3 linked regions of the Homo sapiens genome follow. The protein of the gene in region 2 interacts with the protein of the main gene of each other region in a pairwise test. Each region holds a gene or a part of one and is shown on either strand. Other genes may lie near its edges.

Evidence for each region.
Region 1: the proteins of CEP44 (region 2) and BFSP2 interact in binary tests that used the Homo sapiens proteins (3 or more experiments, as listed by UniProt).
Region 3: the proteins of CEP44 (region 2) and DHX57 interact in binary tests that used the Homo sapiens proteins (3 or more experiments, as listed by UniProt).

The regions. Positions count from the first base shown.
Region 1 is NC_000003.12:133,403,024-133,410,055, forward strand, and holds part of BFSP2 (phakinin), read left to right. Parts: intron 1-7,032.
Region 2 is NC_000004.12:174,300,881-174,307,912, reverse strand, and holds part of CEP44 (centrosomal protein of 44 kDa), read right to left. Parts: intron 5,875-7,032; coding exon 5,727-5,874; intron 4,211-5,726; coding exon 4,064-4,210; intron 3,667-4,063; coding exon 3,544-3,666; intron 1-3,543. UniProt on the Homo sapiens protein: Centriole-enriched microtubule-binding protein involved in centriole biogenesis. In collaboration with CEP295 and POC1B, is required for the centriole-to-centrosome conversion by ensuring the formation of bona fide centriole wall.
Region 3 is NC_000002.12:38,797,229-38,802,966, reverse strand, and holds the end of DHX57 (putative ATP-dependent RNA helicase DHX57), read left to right. Parts: intron 1-51; coding exon 52-252; intron 253-4,512; coding exon of another isoform or gene 4,513-4,524; coding exon 4,525-4,668; 3' UTR 4,669-5,238; downstream 5,239-5,738. UniProt on the Homo sapiens protein: Probable ATP-binding RNA helicase.

The DNA of each region.
Region 1 (7,032 bases), on a different chromosome or scaffold from region 2:
TCCATAATTGAGAAATGCTCCTGATTTTTTCAGTGAATCTGGCCTCGTGGAGCTGCAGGAGGCCCCCACCAGGCCCCCACCCCTTTCCAGGCCTAGAGGAAAGGCCACCTCCCAGCCCAGTCCTTCCACAACACGCTGCCTTCATCTCACTTGGGGTCAGAGGCAGCCACTCTGCGGTCCTGGGCCCCAGAAATCCAGAGCTCTCTCCCTCTGCCCTCACTTAGGCCACTCTGGCTGGGGCTTCATGCCCACCTTTCCAGACTCTGGGCTCTGGTGTTCCGTGCTCCTCACAGCACTCCTTACCCCTCCTGTTTCTCCACCTGCAGCTGCCTCTTCCCCCCCTTGTCCACAGAACTCCTCCTGGTCCTGCAGCTCAGTTCCATGGCAACCCTCTGTGACTCCTCAGGGCCCATGCAGGGCCTGAGGCCTCAGAGCAAGCTCTCAGCAACTGAGCCCCAAGTTGGCACCTAGAGAGAAATTCGACCTCCTTAGCCTGGGCCCCAAACAGAGAATCCAAGAGAGACCTCAGTCACTCAATAGCACGGTGGGGATGTCCATTTTGGTGGCACTTTCTTGGATCAGGCTGGAGCAAGCAGTGGGGAAGGTCAGAGCAGGCAACAATTTCCATAAATGTTTGGGAAACAACATTTCCTCTTGCTTTCAGAGGGGGAGAAGAGTTGGAAAGGAGACAGGCTCTCCTCCCTGCCATCACCACCCCAGCTAGCACAGAAAGCTCCTGGGGCCATTCTGGGGAGTGGGGGTCCCCTGTCCCCTGGAATCTCCCCACAGCCTGTCTCACCCCCACCCAGAGGAGACAAAGACAGGTTTTCAGAAAAGCCAGGAAGAGGAGCCAGGAGGAGGGAAACAATTGCTGTCACTGTGCAGAGAGTCACATCATGGAAAGCAACACGAAACTAGGGTGCCAGGAGGGCTCACACCATGGCAGAATCAGGAAGGCCGTCCTGGGGAGGGGGGAATCTTCCTCATCCTTATATCACTATGTAAGTTTGGGGCCAGGGTTGGCTCCATGGGTGCACCACCAGTGAAGTCTCATAGGATGCTGCACTGGAGTGCAGCGATGCCATCAGAGATCACTGCAACCTCAAGCTCCTGGCCTCAAGAGATCCTCTTGCCTTGGCCTCCCAAAGGGCTTGGATTATAGGTATGAGGCACCGTGCCCAGCCAATAGTTTTATCTTTGAATTTGTGTTTTAAAAGTGAAGTCTTGTGGGACAATGGAGTATGGACCAGGGGCTCTTGAATGGTCCTACCTCCCTCTGTCTCCCTACAACAGGTTCTTGGCCCACCTCTCTGCCCCTGGGAGCCCCTTCTGACACCTGCTCCAAGCCCCTGGGTGGCAGCAACTGGAGGGAGAGGACAAGCCTCTTGCTCACCCCCAACCCAGGTACCTACAGGTGGCACTGAGGTCGTAATATTCTTGGGGGTTATCACCCCACCCCACCAGCAGGACATGGTACATCGGTCCAATGGCCGGTAAGAAAGGTACCGCAGCCATTGGTGGGGTATGCACATGCCCAGAATCATGGAGCGAGGCCTCTGGATGCCTATAAAGGTCTGCATGAGCATCCCCATTCCCCAGGGAGTGGAAATTAAATAGCAGATAAAAATTACCATAACAAGTTGAAACATGACAGAAGAAAGGAAAAAGCATTATATTTGAGTAACTTAAATCGCACTTTGTTCCTGCTCTTTGAACATGGGGCCCCACATTTTGCACTGGGATCCGCAAATTATATAGCTGGTCCTAGTTAGGGTTCATGCATATGAAGTTCTGTTTCAATTCCAAACCTCTCTCCTCCCACTCCTCAGCTGTGTTAGAACCTCCAAGCCTCGCTAAGTGGTGAAAACGGACAGAAAAACCCCAGGTGGCAACTACAGAGGCTGAGGAAGACCTGGGCCATTTCCCTCTCCAGCCTTGCTCTGTGCTCCTGACTTTTCTTACCAAATGAACGATGCTGACAATAGGCTCTGATGGCAACATCAGGCCCTTTCATCCTCAAATAGGCCAAACACAAGCTTGGAATAAGGCAGCCTTGTGCCTCGGAGCTGCAGATGAAAGGAGAGTGGGGTCAGAGGAGCAGCCCTCAGAGACCAGGTGTCAAAACAAAAGGAACAGCTGAAGCCAGGGGGAGAATGAAGCTGCCTGAGGAAGAAAGGGGAGCGCAGAGGTTCTAAATTAAGGAGCCAGGACATTTGTCTAGGTCTCCATGGGAGAAAACTGCAGCTTATACCTCCAAAGGATAAGGCTGTCAGCTGGAGAAAATGGGAAATCAAAATTGTTGAAAGGCAAAGGATTAGAGTTTAAAATGGACCTGATTTGACTATTTTTCCTGCTGTTCACAGCCCGTCTTTCTGTCCCTTGCACAGAGACAGCCCATACTCAGGGAATCTGCCTACTTGAAGAACATGCTGGAAACTCAGGCAATCCAGATCTGGGCCAGGTTTCTCCCACAGAACTTGTGGTCCTAGAAGGCTCTCTTTTTAGAAAAAAAAAACAAGAACTAATCCTTCTCCACTGAGAATAAATAAAGGCAACAGGGTTTGTTGTTCATGATTTACAACCTGGTATCCCTGGAAAGTAGGTGATGGGGGCAGAATCATAATCTGCAAAGGCCTGAACACATTTCCCCAAGAAAAAGTCACTCAGCCTGTTTCTTAATCAGTGCAATTTGTTTGGTCAGAGCAGGCCAGTGGGGCGGTTTCTTTGTCAGCCAAGCTATAAGGGACACTACAGTATGGTTAGAAATGTAGCTACCAGAGAAAAGTCCGTTAGAGAGATTCATTCCTCTTAGGAAGAGTGAGGTATATGATTGGAAGAAATATTTTGATGGGAGAGGGGGAGAAGGAGGCATGAGCCTGCTTCCCAAGGGTCTTGTTCATATAATACAGGTGGCCACTAAGCCTCTTTATTTATTTTTATTTATTTATTTTTTGATATGGAGTCTCACTCTGTTGCCCAGGTTGTGGCGCAATCTCGGCTCACTGCAACCTCCGCCTCCCGGGTTTAAGCGATTCTCCTGCCTCAGCCTCCCAAGTAGCTGGGATTACAGGTGCCCACCACCATATCCAGCTATTTTTTTTTTTTTTGTATTTTTAGTAGAGACAGGGTTTCACCATGTTGGCCAGGCTGGTCTCAAACTCCTGACCTCAGGTGATCCACCAGCCTTGGCCTGCCAAAGTATTGGGATCACAGGCGTGAGCCACCGTGCCCAGCCAGTCACTAAGCTGCTTTCTAAGAAAGGTGGTTTCTGGAAGTTGAATGTGTCTGGAAAGCAAGAGAACTGCTAAAGAAAACAGAGGGAGACTAGGGTGTGGCACTCAGGGCCTCTTTCCATGCCCCTCTCATACACCACACTCGGCCACTCTTAAACCTCTTAAGATCTCTTAAAATGTGAGTTCCATGTTGGGAAATGGAAGACAGGGGGTGGGGTCAGTTTTCCATGAAAACTAGGGAAAATTAGATGTGATGCAAAGACTGGGGATTTTGAAGCCAGACAGCCCCTAGCCTTGCCGCTTGCCATCTACCAACCGTGTGATCTTGAGCCAAGGTCTTCATTGATCTCTGCATCTCAGTTTCTCATCTGAATAATGAGGATGATTAGAGACTTCCTTTGACATGATAAAATATCTCTAAGAAGGAAACACTAGGCCTTCCACAGAAATTAAGAATGAGAAAAAGATGCCCGCTCTCTCTCGTTGGTTAGAGGCAGTAGTCAATATGATTAGACAAGAGAAAGTACTTGGTATAAGAATTGGAAAGAAAGAGGGAAAAATTTGGTCTTTCTGGAAATCCCAGAAGGAACAATGTAAAAACTATACGACAAAAAATAAGATGATTTAGTGAAGTAGCACGTTATAAAATAACATCAAAAAGCAATGCTGAGGCTGGGCATGTGGGCAAATGCCTGTAATCCAAGTACATTGTGAGGCCAAGGCAGAAGGATCACTTGAGCCTGGGAGGTTGAGGCTGCAGTGAGCCATGATTCTACAACTGCACTCCAGCCTGGGTGACAGAGCAAGACCCTGTCTCTAAAAGAAAAATAAATAAATAAATGCTGCTGGGCATGGTGGTACAAACCTGTAGTCCCAGGTATTCAAGAGGGTGAAGCAGGGGGATTGCTTGAGCCCAGGAGTTCAAGACCAGCCTGGGCAACAAAGCAAGGGCCATCTCAAAACAAATAACAAACAATGCTATTTATATATAAACAAAAAGATAAAAGAGATGAGAAAATCTTATTTATGATAGCGTAAGATGAATCACCTCTAAACTTCAGAAATGTCCAAAGTCTATATTAGACAACAATCAAATCTATCTGAAACACACAAAATAGTCTTGAACAAATGGAAAGAAACACCATGCACTCAAATAGACTCAATAGCATAAAGATGTCTCTTCTCCCTAAGTTAATGTATCAATTTAATGCAATCCTAATTTTTAAAATTCCATTTTTTTTTCTAGAGTTAGATGAGTTGATTTTAAATTCCCTTTGTAAGAACAGAAAGACAAGAATGGCCAGGAAAGAAAAACTAAGAAAGAGTGGAGGGGAGGAGGCTGGGGAGGGGACCAGCAGCCCCGCCAGACATTAACATATTATAAAGTCTCTGTAATTAAAATAGTTTAGCGTTGGCACAAAAAAGATGAGAAAACCATGGAACAGAATAGAACATTCTATAGTAAGCTCTACTGTGTTTGGAAATTGAGTATTGATGAAGGCAGCATTTGAAACCAATAGAGGGAAGGATGGACTTTTTAATAAGTGATATTCAGACAACTAGATAGTCATAAGGAAAATAATAAAATTAGATCCATTTCTTGCTGTACCCTAGGGTCAGTTCTAAATGTATCCTAGATATAAAATCAAAAATGAAACCATACAAGTAGAAAACATAGGTGAATTCCTTTATAACTTGGATGTGGGAAAAATTTTTCTTGTTACAATTCAAAATACAAAAGCAACAAAGGAAAATATTGATAAATTTGATTAAGAAAAATTTTAAAATGTTGCATTTCAAAATATCACCATAAGCAAAATTAAAAGATAAATGACAAACTAGAAAAAAAAATGCAATGTAGGATACAAAAGGTTAAAATAGCCCTATTTTATACACAGCATTTAAAATTTGAGGTTAAAAAAAGCCGATAGCACTCTTTTATTTTTAAATGTTAGAGATATGAACAGACAGTTGACACAAAAAATAGATGAAAATGGCTCCTAATGTCTCAACTGCACTCATAATAAGAGAAATTTTTAAAATCTACCTGAGATACCACTTTTACCTATCCAATTAGCAAAACTCTAAAAGTATGTCAAACTATTTGTTGGTGAAGCTCTAGGGAAACAGGCAAGTTTATACAGTGTTGATGGGAATAGAAAATGTTACAACCCCTATGGAGAAAAATTTGGCAACATCTAGACAAATTATATAGGCATTTATGTATACATAATTTGACCCAGCAGTCCTGTTTCTAGGACACACTCCCAATGACACACTGGCAAAAATATGAACAAGAAGTATGTACAAAGCTGTTCACTGCAATCCTATCTGTAATACCAAAATACTGGAAAAATCCAAATACCTCCCAGGAGGGGACTCGTTGAATAAACCATGATGCATCTGCAAAGGAACAAGAAATCGCTCTATAGCTACTATGGAGTGATGATCTCCAGGATATGTTATTGAGCTAAAAGGCAAGATGGAAAGAGTGTGTATTTCATTCTACCATCTAGCTAAGAAAAGGGAAGGATATGAATATATACATACATATGTGTTTACATTGAAAAAATGGAATAAAACAAACCATAAGTATTTTTAAATGTTACTTATAGGAGGGTGGAGGGGAAAAAGTAGCAGGGAAAGGTAGGGCACTAGAGTTCTTCTAATTTATCTTGTTATGTGGAGATGACTTTGGAACCATGAAAATATTTTACAGAATTGTATAACAAAAATAGATTTCAGAAAGCCAATTCTAAGAATCAAAAATAAAAAGAAACAAATGAATCCAGCTATGTACCAAGTTGATAGCATAGTCACACGAAGAAGAACTATTCCAAGTGGCTTTTTAAACCACAGGAATTTAACTGTACATTCCTAGTGGAGATGCAAAAGACAACAGAAAAAAACCCAACAATTTTTCAGTAATCACATTGGTGGTGGTAGCACTGGCACTGTTATTCTGACACTGGTGTGTGTGTGTGTGTGTGTGTGTGTGTGTACTGTGGGACAGAGTAAGAGAGTAACTATATTTGTGTTATTGAAAACTGAGACTTGAATGTGAGTGAAAGGAGATACAGTTGTAAGATGCATGACGTTTAGTGACAATTCTTTAGTCTTGAATTTAAATCAGAATTATCAATATAAAGTCATGATATATGTGATCATGAAAATAAATATATGCCTATTTCCAAGTCTGACCACTGAAAAGATCTAGAAGCAATGGCCAACTTAGCGACAATGAACATTTTTAGCCTCAGATTTGGGTCTCTAACAACCATCTTTCACTAAAAGAATGGGGGGCTCCTTGTAGAAATGGCTGAATCCAGGTTCGAGGATAGGAAATATTCAAGACGAGTCTGAAACACCTTGTCATACCAGAAAGCAAGGACGCTATGAAAAACTACTACAGTCATGTCAGAAGACTTAGGAGTCAATTCAAAGAAGCTCCCACTAACCAAAGATGGTTGGGAATCAATAAGAATATTATCAGGGCTTCCAGTAAGGTGAACAAGAAGACATCCATGTGCTGGGAGGGTGGCTACCCCAACTCCATGGGGACAGAACTCCTGTGCTCAGGACTCTTCTACACCTCATGCTGTGGAATCTAAAGCAACAGCAAAGCTGAGGTCCAACTGCCATAAGGATGGACACCAAGGAGGCTGCACTGGGGAGAAAAAGAAGTCAAGATAAGCAACATGAACCATAAAGCCCGGACCGTGGCGGGTATGAAAGAACAAGAAAGGCGGGATCAGGAAATTCAACAGGACGAAGTTGCCTTCCCACCTAGCTCTCTTCT
Region 2 (7,032 bases):
TGGTATCTCATTGTGGTTATGATTTGCATTTTTCTAATGATCAGTGATGTTGAGTTTTTTTCATGTGATTATTGGCTGCATGTATACCTTCTCTTCAGAAGTAGATGTTCATATCCTTTGTCCACTTTTTAATTAGGTTGTTTTTTTCTTGTAAATTTGTTTAAGTTCTTTATGGATGCTAGATATTAGGCCTTTGTCAGATACAAGTTTGCAAAAATTTTCTCCCACTCCGGAGGGTGTCTGTTTACTTTGCTGATAGTTTCTTTTGCTGTGTAGAAGCTCTTTAGTTCAATTAGATCCCATTTATCAACTTTTGCTTTTGTTGGAATTGCCTTTGGCGTCTTCGTCATGAAATCATTGCCGACACCTATGTCCTGAATGGTACTGCCTAGGTTGTCTTCCAGGGTTTTTATAGTTTTGGGTTTTACATTTAAGTCTCTAATCCATCTTGAGTTGATTTTTGTGTATGGTGTAAGGAAAGGGTCTAGTTTCAATCTTCTGCATATGGCTACCCAGTTATCAAAGCACCATTTACTGACTAGGGAATCCTTTCCCCATTGCTTGTTTTCATCAGGTTTGTTGAAGATCTGATAGTTGCAGGTGTGTGGTCTTATTTCTGGGTTCTCTATTCTCTTCCATTGGTCTATGTGTCTGTTCTGGTACTAGTACCATGATGTTTTGGTTACTGTAGCCCTGTAGTATAGTTTGAAGTTGGGTAGCATGATCCCTCCAGCTTTGTTCTTTCTCCTTAGGATTGCCTTGGCTATTTGGGTCTTTTTTGGTTTCATATAAATTTTAAAGTAGTTTTCTTTAGTTCTCTGAAGACTGTCAATGGTAGTTTAATGGGAGTAGCATTGAATCTATAAATTGCTTTGGGCAGTACAGTCATTTTAACAATATTGATTCTTCCTATCCATGAGCATGGAATGTTTTTCCATTTGTTTGTGTCATCTCTGATTTCTTTGAGCAATGGTTTATAGTTTTGCTTGTAGAGATCTTTTGCCTCCCTTGTTAGCTAGATTCCTAGGTATTTTATTCTTTTTGTGGCAATTTTGAATGGGAGTTTGTTTGTGATTTGGTTCTCAGCTTGACTGTTGTTGGTAGATAAGATTGCTAGCAATTTTTGCACATTGATTTTGTATCTCAAGACTTTGCTGAAGTTGCTTATCAGCTTAAGAAGCTTTTGGGCTGAGAAGATCCTCCTACAATTATTTTAAACATACAGCAATTTTGCAAAAGGAACACCAATCTTTAAAAATTAAAAAAAGTTTAAATTATCACATATAATATATATATCAAAATATTACCATTACTAACATTACCAATAATTTATGTGTGATGATAAAATTGGGGTTATGACTTTTAAAACAATTCTTACATTTTAGGACAAGCGCTGAAATATTTATTAAATTATGTCTGAGATTTGATTTAAAATAAAGACAAAACAAGATTAGCAAAGAGTTGATAAATTGCTGAAACTGGATGATGGGTATGTTTGTAAATGTTTGAAATGTTCCATAATAAAAAGTTATTTTTAAAAAAGATTGCCAAATAATTCACTTATAAATAATCAAAAACTGGCTCTATGAGTAGGGCTCATTACAATTTTTCTGTTAAACAAACTGCAATTTATTAGACCTTCAGCTAACAATTCAAACCTAATAATGACAACGAAGAAGTCCTGACAAAAAAAGCATTAGGTCACGGTATGCATTTACCTAGAAATCCTCTACCTGCTTCCTATTCTACAGTTTGCATACACACTATAAAAACATATGTGACTCAGAAGCGCAAATAGGCATACTATATAAGGCACTGGGATAGGAGACAATTTGCTTTAATATTGACTCAACTTTTGCTTGTAAACAAAGAAATGTACTTGTAGACTCTTTTCTAAATCTGAGAACTTTTAATACTTATTCAAATTTCTGATAAAGATCTGGTATAAATTTTAATAGATAACAAAGAAAACTTTGCTTTAAGAAAATTAAAAATAAGTCTAATGTTTTGAAGTTTACATTTTTCTTGGCTAGGACAATTTACACTGTCCCCTCAACTCTCATACTGAAATAGAACATTGAAAAGCACATTATATCAATAAATAATTAATAAGTGCTCACAGTGTTCCTAATCCTGTGCTAAGCAAAATGAAGGTACAAAAAATCAGTATAAGAAAATCCCTGTTCATATATGTTCCTTCTAGTTGGGGAAGAATACAAGATATAAGTCATTTAACAGTTAGAAAATCATAAATAAAACTAACAAGAGTTAGATGAGTTAGAGATGCAAGTGTACAAAAACTACATGCACTTATTCAAAAATGGCGGCTTTGTATCATTCTTTATATTGTCTTCATTACCTAGAGCAAAACAGGTACATTAAAAAGAAGTGGCATAAGAACATTTTCTTATAATAAAATTTCACTTTTTTAAGGTATAAAGGAATAAACATATTTTTTTGAGATGGAGTCTCGCTCTGTCAGCCAGCCTGGACTGCAGTAGTACAATCTCGGCTCACTGGAACCTCTGCCTCCAGGGTTCAAGCGATTCTCCTGCCTCAGTCTCTCAAGTAGCTGGGGTTACAGGCACCAGCTACCACGCCTAGCTAATTTTTGTATTTTTAGTAGAAATGGGGTTTCGCCATGCTGGTCAGGCTGGTCTCAAACTCCTGACTTTAGGTGATCCACCTGCCTTGGCCTCCCAAAGTGCTGGGATTACAGGCATGAGCTACTGTGCTAGACCCAAGAATAAATTTTTAAAATAGATTCTGTTTACATAACTCATGTATTTTGGATTAGGGCAGAAATAATACTCTAGATTATACTTCAGTCAGAAAGTATTCACATCCTTTACTTAATTACACCATTGATAATTCATCTGATATTCTATCATTCAATCAGAGTCTTCTCCAGCTGGAAGACAGCTGAAAATATATTAATAAATAATATTTTAGCTTAAGTCTCCCTTAGTGATAGAAACACTGTAGCTCTAAGTGCATTAGATTCAATTTGCCACAGCTGCTCAAAGCAGATAATGGCAGAAAAATTATCTTTCAAGAAAGAGAAAATATTCAAAATATTAACTGAAAACCAGATTCTACGTGTAGGGACTACCAATTATTGGATAATTCATACTTGGTTACAGAAATATAATGTACATAAATGAATCATTATAACCTATCACTACTGCTAATGTAGGCTCTTCATATGTTCCCATGTTTTAGGAAGACCAGAACACAATTAAGAGCAAATGTAGATAACTGCATAAGATAATCTTCCTAAATCACTACTCTTCTGTTTAGGAAATCCGGCAGAATTAGAAATTAGAAATATAAAGAGAACACGTATTTAATTTTATATTTCTATCCTATTGTTATAACTTCAGGCATACTGCCCAAAAATATATGGCATGCACTGTTAAAAATCAATGAACTCCAATATCTAACTAGAATGTTCATCAGGTGCCAATCAGAAAAGTGAAAACTGTATATTGGATTAATTAGATAACTCTTAAACAATATGATATTTTCTTTGTGGTTGCATACCTTTCCTGAGGTCATAAACCTGCCACTGATATCAACGCCAACAGCCTCTGCAGATATTTTCTCATTGCCCAAAGGAGGTTCTGACTTACCAGAACTGATTTTCTTTCTTTGTTGTGATGGAATCTAAAAAAAAAGGTATTAGTCAAAATAACAAATTTTGTGTGAAAGCATAATTATATATTAAAATTCCATTAACATTTAAATTTTCATATATGAAATATAGCTGACAAATAATGAGACTCTAATGAGACTACATGACTTTTAAAAACTAAGAAGTAATGAAAATGTATTATGTTTGAACTATTAGTTTAACACTAGGAGTTCCCAGTCACAGGTGTATAAAACAAGAGAGTAGTATTTAAAATAAACAACAAGCTTTATAAGGTTACTCAAATCTTTGAATAATACAGTAATTACACTATGAAATAATTTGCTGTCTAGGGTTTTGATTTTATACATTAAAATACTGAGCCATCTATTAATAGCATACATCAGCATTAATATCTATTCATAAAATTACCTTCTGAAGACTGCTTAATTCCTTGTGCTTTTTCATCACACAATTCAAAATATCACAAACAATTTGGATTTTCCATTCTGCAAACCCACATTGGATAAACTGCTTTTTTGTCAAAATTGGTTTATAATTAAATTGATCACGAAGAAGCTGCAGAGGAAACAGACTCTTGTAATAATTGGGAGCAATTTATTTCTAAAATTCCAAATGATAATGCCCACCTGGTCAGGGGAATAATGGCCACCTTTGAGAGGACAAGGAAAACCAAGCCATTAACTAAAGAGTACTAAAGTAATTCATAGGGCTGGTGTTAAGTCATGATCCAGTAAGACAGGTATCAGGTGGAAAACAGGTAGCAAAGGATATGCTGGAGAACAGATGTCTGTCCAGAGAGATGGAAAAATATAGTCAATCATCAAAAAGTGTAAATATCTTCAGAGATATTAGAAAAACTTCTTAGTTCACTAGAATACCATACCAGAGTCAGAAACTATAGTTCTATTTGTTTATAACTCTTCCACTATGTGATTTTTGGATACGTCAGTAGGCCTTTTGGTCTCAATTTTTCATTTGTAAAATGAAAAAAAACACACTAGATCAGTAGTTTCCTAAATCTACTCTGTGGAGCTCTAGAATTTCTTAAAAGTGCCTCTTAGGCTTCCATGGATGTCTTCTGGGATCAAAAGCAAGAAAGAGAAAGATTAAACAGAGACTACATATAAAAGCTCCCATTTCATTGACTGCAACTCTGCTTTTTTTAAAAGACTATTTGAGGCTGGGTGCGGTGGCTCATGCCTGTAATGCCAGCACTTTGGGAGGCCAAGGTGGGCAGAGCACAAGGTCAGGAGATCGAGACCATCCTGGCCAACATGGTGAAACCCTCTCTACTAAAATACAAAAAATTAGCCAGGCGTGGTCACGGTGCACGCCTGTAGTCCCAGCTACTCAGGAGGTTGAGGCAGGGGAACTGCTTGAACCCAGGAGGCGGAGACTGCAGTGAGCCTAGATCGTGACACTGCACTCCAGCCTGGTGACAGAGCAAGACTCTGTCTCAAAAAAAAAAAAAAAATAGACTACATTTGATAAGTGGGTTTTTACCATTAAAAACTAACTTTAATACAAACCACAGTACTTAAGCAAAAATTAATGATAAAAGCAGGGTTTTAAAAAAATCAAATAAGAGATTAAATTCAGTATACACATAGTACAAGTATAAATACTAGGGTAGATACAATATAAGACATGCTCTCAGACCTCAAAGAATATATCAGTTTAATAAAAAAAAAATGTCAGTAATAGTTCCTTCTTACAAACAACTAAATTAACATATAATTCTAAAAAACTGTAAGTTTTATTGAATATAATTACATTACTCTCTAATTTCTGCCAGTATATCAAATTTTACTAAAATTTGATTAAAAAGGGCAAACAATAGCCAACAACAAATATTTACCAGTTGCTGTATTTATTAGAATAGGTAACATTCAAAAAGCAAACATGAATTGCATCTTGATTTCAATAGAGACTACATTTAAATGAGATAAATACAAATGAAAATATCCTGTCAATTGTATATGCTGCATATATTTAAGAAGTTATGACTAAATCATTAATTTTTAAAAATCATTCAATAACTAATAGTTATTGTTTGATAAACTCAAAATACCTTATAGACAGCATCTATAAAGCGCAAGTCATTTTTTGCTATGAGCTCTACATTGGATTCCATTATAAGTTCTGTTACATAAGGTGAGTATGAGGTAAAAGAATAGCTGATGATGGGCAAAGATGCTGCTGGGTCTCCCTTTATCAAACTGTTAGGAAAAAAAGAAAAATATTTTTAATAAGCATTTAATAAGCATAATTCCACAAAGTTGGATAATCAAGAAAATATTAGAAATGTTTATAATAATTTAAAACTTAACACTATAGCTATAATAATTAGGTGATACATGAGACTTTCTAGATTCCATTCCCCATTTGAAACCAGTCTAGCCAGACTACTATGAAATACCACTGTTCGTCTGCTCAAAAAACTTACTATAGGTCTCTAGTACCAACTATTTACCATTGATTTTCCAAAGCTTAGTCTTACGTGATCTACTCCATTTTCTACTACTAATAAAAGCAATGTACCATCTTACAAAATTGAAGTACACTTTATGGTTTTGCAAACACTTGTTCTATTACCTCCTTTGCTCTCTACCACAAACTTCCAAAGGTAAATATTATGAATTCTAAGTTACAGATGAGGAAGATGGGATGGGAAAAAGCATGAACTGTGACTTGGTTGACCAGTCTATTACTTTTCACTTACTGCTCCTTCTAAATCGTATATTATTACCTATGTTAATTCCACCAGTCTAGAAAGGTATCCCACTCTTCTTTGCTTATCCAATTATTATTTATTTTTTACAAATCATTCATCAAATCTCAAGCTTCCCATGAAGCTTTCCTCAACTTTCTGATCTATACTGATCTCTCCAAGAAAGACTCCCAGGCTACTCAGTATCTGCTGTGTCTTTATCTGTCTGGTAGTGTTTCCTGTCTTATTTTCTCAATGTGAAGTACCTTCACTGATTTTCCCACAACAAAGCACAGGAGGTATTTGTTCAATTTGCCAGTTACATTTGTTCAATTGCAGTATTTTGTACTTATATAAAGCAAATGTTTTCCAAAAAATTCAAGATGTTCACATAAACATCCCCATCTCCACCCAAATTTTTAGTAAGACAGAGAACAAATACATGATGATAGCACTGCATTTTGTTTTACTGGACAAATATGAATTATTTCTTTTATGTTTCTTTGAAATACTGTAATATTTCACCCAATCAGAAAACTCCTCTGGCAACCTTGTCTATCTGAAACACAGTCCAAAAACAGGAAATGAAAAAAAAAATACCTTTGAACAGCAAAATCTGTCCATTTTATGCACACTATACATAGATGATAGCCAGGCACACATTTAA
Region 3 (5,738 bases), on a different chromosome or scaffold from region 2:
CTTTTTGTTGCCAGTGACATCACTGTCATCATCTGAGGTTTTTTGTTACAGGTGAGACACTTTGACAGCCCCTACCTGTTGTACCACGAGAAGATAAAAACTAGTCGAGTATTCATCCGAGACTGCAGCATGGTGTCTGTGTACCCGCTGGTCTTGTTTGGAGGAGGCCAAGTGAATGTGCAGCTTCAAAGAGGAGAGTTCGTTGTCTCCCTGGATGATGGTTGGATCCGTTTTGTAGCTGCTTCCCATCAGGTAAAGGCAGAATTGGTCTGTTTTATGAGGCTCAGGCCATGAGGGGCTTTGACAATATGAAGTTATGAAGTCAAGGGCATTCCTCTAGGGACCAAGGTAACAGAGCTAATTAAAAATGAATGACGGTGGCCGAGCCCAGTGGCTCACACCTATAATCCCAGCACTTTGGGAGGCCGAGGCAGGCAGATCATCTGGGGCCAGGAGTTCGAGACCAGCCTGGCCAACATGGTCAAACCCCGTCTCTACTAATAATACAAAAATTAGCTGGGCATGTTGGTGGGTGCCTGTAATCCCAGCTACTCAGGACGCTGAGACATGAGAATCGCTTGAACCTAGGGGGCAGAGGTTGCAGTGAGCCGAGATCGTGCCATTGCACTCCAGCCTCGGCAACAGAGCGAGATTCCTTCTCAAAAAAAAAAAAAAAAAGTGAATGATGGTCTACAATGAGACACTAAGAAAGAGTGAGGCTGAAGTGAAGCCAGGAGTGGAGCCCTAGTAAGAGTTCCAGAAAGCACACTGTGAGGGGAAGTCTGGTACGGGCTGAGGTTAGTATAAAAGGCTAGGACAGAAGCTGTAAAGTGAGGGTGCTGGACCTTCCTTATTGTTATATAAATAATAGATGTTCACCAAAGAAAAGTCAGAAAATACAGATAAGCAAAAATAAGTAAATAAAAACCACCCTGATTCCACCACTACCATTTTGAGAAAAAGATAATGGGTCTGAATTCTTCATTTATTCTCAGGTCTCAATTATTCCCTATATGGAGTCTCTGTGAAAAACATATCATGGAGAGTACATATTTAAGAAACAGAACTTCACCCAGGTGCGGTGGCTTACGCCTGTAATCCCAGCACTTTGGGAGGCCAAGGTGGGCAGATCACCTGAGGTCAGGAGTTCGAGACCAGCCTGGCCAATATGGTGAAACCCCATCTCTACTAAAAATTTTAAAAAATTAACCAGGTGTGGTAGTGGGCGTCTGTAATCCCAGCTATTCAGGATGCTGAGGCAGGAGAATCTCTTGAGCCCAGGAGGCGGAGGTTGCAGTGAGCCGAGATTGCGCCATTGCACTCCAGCCTGAGCAACAAGAGGGAAACTCCATCTCAAAAAAATGAATATATAAAAATACAAAAAAAAAAATTAGCTGGGCGTGGTGGCGGGCGCCTGTAATCCCAGCTACTCAGGAGGCTGAGACAGGAGAATCACTTGAACCCAGGAGGCAGAGGTTGCAGTGAGCCGAGATTGCACCACTGCACTTCAGCCTGGGTGACAGAATGAGACTCCGTCTCAAATAAATAAATAAATAGATAGATAGATAAAACTTCAGGTGGACACCCGTAATCCCAACTGCCAGAGGCTGAGGTGGGAGGATTGCTCAAGCCCAAGAGGTCGAGGCTTCAGTGAGCCATGATTGCACCACTGCACTCCAGCCTGGGTGACAGAGTGAGACTCTGTCCCAAAAAAAGAAATAAATAAAATTTCATTTTAATATCTGCATCTGTTAGAATTCTTATGTTACAAGAAGCAGATATGCCAACTCAAACATTAAAAGAAATTGATTGGCATATTTAACTTTAAAGTCCAGAGCAGCAGTGTCCAACAGAAATATAATGTGACCCACATATGTAATTTTAATTGTTCTAGTAGCCACATTTTTAAAAGTAAAAAGAAATAGATGAAATTAATCTTAATATATTTTATTTAACCTAATACATCCAAAATGTTTTAATTTTAACATGTAATCAATATAAAATTATTAAGATAGTTTACATTACCTTTTCATATTAAGTCTTCAAAATCGGGTATATATTTTATATTCGCAGCACATCTCAGTTTGGGCTGGCCACATTTCATATAGACATTAGATAAGCCACTTGTGACTAGTGGCTACCTTACTGGATAGTCCAGGTCAAGAAGGCCAGGCAACGTTGGTTTGATTTAGCAGTTCAGTGGTGACAAAAACGTGGTTAACCTAGTGGTATCGAAAGGGCTGCAATAGCTCCTGGCATCACATGTATGCAGCATATGGTCCAGAAGAAGAGCCAGAAACTTTCTTGCCTACAAGCTCAATCAAAGCTCCCCTCCTAAACCAATCCCTGTGACCAAAGGGATGTCCTGAACTTGAATACCTGGAGTACCTGAGCCATTCACCCTGGCAGGGCTCACAGTGTGAACCTGTGTTAGAGCAGGGTCCGAACTGTATGTTTCCCATACAGTGGGGAAGGGGCAAAACAGATGCTGGGAAGATGTCTACAGTGCCACAACATCAGCATAAGCAAAATGCCATAAAGCATACAGTATATCCCAAAGCTACAGAGATTTTTGATTCATCTAATATCTTCCACTTATTTATTTTTTTTTTTGAGGTGGAGTCTTGCTCTGTCACCCAGGCTGGAGTGCAGTGGCGCAATCTCGGTTCACTGCAACCTCCGCCTCCCGGGTTCAAGCAATTCTCCTGCCTCAGCATCCTGAGTAGCTGGGACTGCAGGCGTACACCACCAAGCCCGGCTATTTTTTTTTTTTTTTTTTTTGAGATGGAGTTTCGCTCTTGTTGCCCAGGCTGAAGTGCCATGGTGCCATCTCGGCTCACCACAGCCTCTGCCTCCCGTGTTCAAGCGATTCTCCTGCCTCACCCTCCCAAGTAGCTGGGATTACAGGCATACGCCACCACCCGGCTAATTTTGTATTTTTAGTAGAGACGGGGTTTCTCCATGTTGGTCAGCCTGGTCTTGAACTCCCGACCTCAGGTGATCTGCCCGCCTTGGCCTCCCAAAGTGCTGGGATTACAGGCATGAGCCACCGCGCCAGGCTAATTTTTGTATTTTTATTAGAGACGGAGTTTCACCATTTGGACAGGCTGATCTCAAACTCCTGACCTTGTGATCCGCCCACCTCGGCCTCCCAAAGTGCTGGGATTACAGGCGTGAGCCACTGAGCCTGGCCCACTTTTTTTTTTTTTTTTTTTTGAGATGGAGTTTTGCTCTTGTTGCCCAGGCTGGAGTGCAATGGCGCGATCTCGGCTCACCACAACCTCTGCCTCCTGGGTTCAAGCAATTCTCCTGCCTCAGCCTCCCGAGTAGCTGGGATTACAGGCATGTGCCACCATGCCTGGCTAATTTTGTATTTTTAGTAGAGATGGGGTTTCTCCATGTTGGTCAAGCTGGTCTCGAACTTCCACCTCAGGTGATCCGCCCACCTCAGTCTCCCAAAGTGCTGGAATTACAAGCGTGAGCCACCCGGCCCAGCCTATCTACCACCCTTTTTTTTTTTTTTTTTTTTGAGACAACAAGGTCTGCAGTGGAGTGATCGGTGATCAGTAAATTTTCTTTTCCTTTTTTTTTCTTTTTTTTGAAACGGAGTTTCGCTCTTGTTGCCCAGGCTAGAGTGCAATGGCGCAATCTTGGCTCACCGCAACCTCCACCTCCCAGGTTCAAGCGATTCTCCTGCCTTAGCCTCCCAAGTAGCTGGAATTATAGGCATGCACCACCATCCCAGCTAATTTTGTACTTTTAGTACTAAGAGACGGGGTTTCTCCACATTGGTCAGGCTGGTCTCGAACCCCTGACCTCAGGTGATCTGCCCATCTCGGCCTCCCAAAGTGCTGGGATTACAGGCGTGAGCCACCGGGCCCGGCCCTCTCTACCACTTTTAATTCCCCATTTTCCTGCTTCTCCTCGTGGAATAAATCATAAAAATTGACCAAACTTTAATATGGAGAACACTATATAAAAGCCATACTTCCAGACTGAATCTTTTCTTTTTTGGGGAGCAGGGGGGACAGAGTCTCGCTATGTCACCCAGGCTGGAGTGCAATGGCGCGATCTCAGCTCACTGCAACCTCCACCTCCTGGGTTCAAGCCATTCTCCTGCCTCAGCCTCTGAGTAGCTGGGATTACAGGCGCATGCCACCACAACTCGCTAATTTTTGTATTTCTAGTAGAGACAGGATTTCACCATGTTGGCCAGCCTGGTCTTGAACTCCTGATCTCATGATCCGCCCGCCTTGGCCTCCCAAAGTGCTGGGATTACAGGCGTGAGCCACTGCGCCTGGCCCGAATCTTTTCTTTAGATGAGATGTGATAGAGGCACTTTTTTACAATGGACCTCATTTAGTCTATTACAAAATGAAAATGTATTTAGGGTTTTTGCTCCTAATGGAGTTAAAATTAGTACCAGAAATCTAAATAATGGTAATCATAACTTGGGTATTTCCCTCCAATAACCTATCCTGCCTGTTCCTCCAAGCACTGCTTATATTGTAGCTTTCATTTTAGGTGGCTGAACTGGTAAAGGAGCTTCGTTGCGAACTTGATCAGCTTCTCCAGGATAAAATTAAAAACCCAAGCATTGATCTGTGTACGTGTCCTCGAGGATCCCGGATCATCAGCACAATTGTGAAACTTGTCACCACACAATAAAAAGCAGTCTTAGAGAGTGCTTGCTACTCACCTGCTTCTAGCTCACCTGGGAAATAACAGCAGAACCTCTACCTCGAACTAAAGACCTATTGGGGCTGGCCCTGGTGGAGGAGCCCAGGGCATGAAGCCCAAGGCAGCTGAGGCAGTGTATATACCCTTAGGGCCATTTCTAACAAAGCCTTGGCCACTCCCAGCACAATTTGGAGTGTCAAGGGTGAGAGCCTAAAACCCAGCTTGCCTGTCTTTGTCTCTGTGATTGTTCTGGAGTGAATTAAGTTCACCTGATAACTCAAAAGTGAATGTATAATACAATTCTGTTTTAATCTGTGTATTCTTTTTCTCCTACTTTTTACTGGGGTGAGAGGGGCATGAAGAGAAATACGCCTTTTTTTTTTTTCTTTTCCTGTCGCCAAGGCTCGACTGAGAGAAGTCAGAACAGAGAAGGGGAAAAAAAACCCAAAATTATGTGAACAAGCAAAATTAAAATTTCATTTTAGGCTATTGGCTACTGAGTAAACTTGACTTGTGAGGGGTTTTTATTTTTACTCATTAAAAGTCAACTTAAAAAAATTGAATGAGTTCTCTTTTGGTATTAAAGTGCAAGCTGGTCTTATCGATAACACTCCTATTCTTAAAAGCAGAACAATCTAGATGTCGTCATAGTTCTACATTTAGGAATCTTTACTCTGTCTTATCAACTCACCCAGACACGAATCACCGAAGGAGAATTTTAATAGCATTCCTGGGGCAGAGTTGGCATGGATGAGGTCAAAAAGGTTACCATCGGATTTACAGCCACCACAATGCTTTCCATGAAATTGCTTATTTTCAACCACCTGTTAGGTTAATGGGGCGCTAGCATTTTGGAAAAACATCAGGGGATTTACATTTTCCCTGGACATCTATCAGTATGGCGAGGAAGGATCCCAAATTGCTGAGTAGAAAAAATATTTGTATGTTTGTTTAGACCTCAGGGCCGGACGCGGTGGCTCATGCCTGTAATCCTAGCACTTTAGGAGGCCGAGGCAGGCCAATCACATGAGGTCAGAAGTTCAAGACCAGCTTGGGCA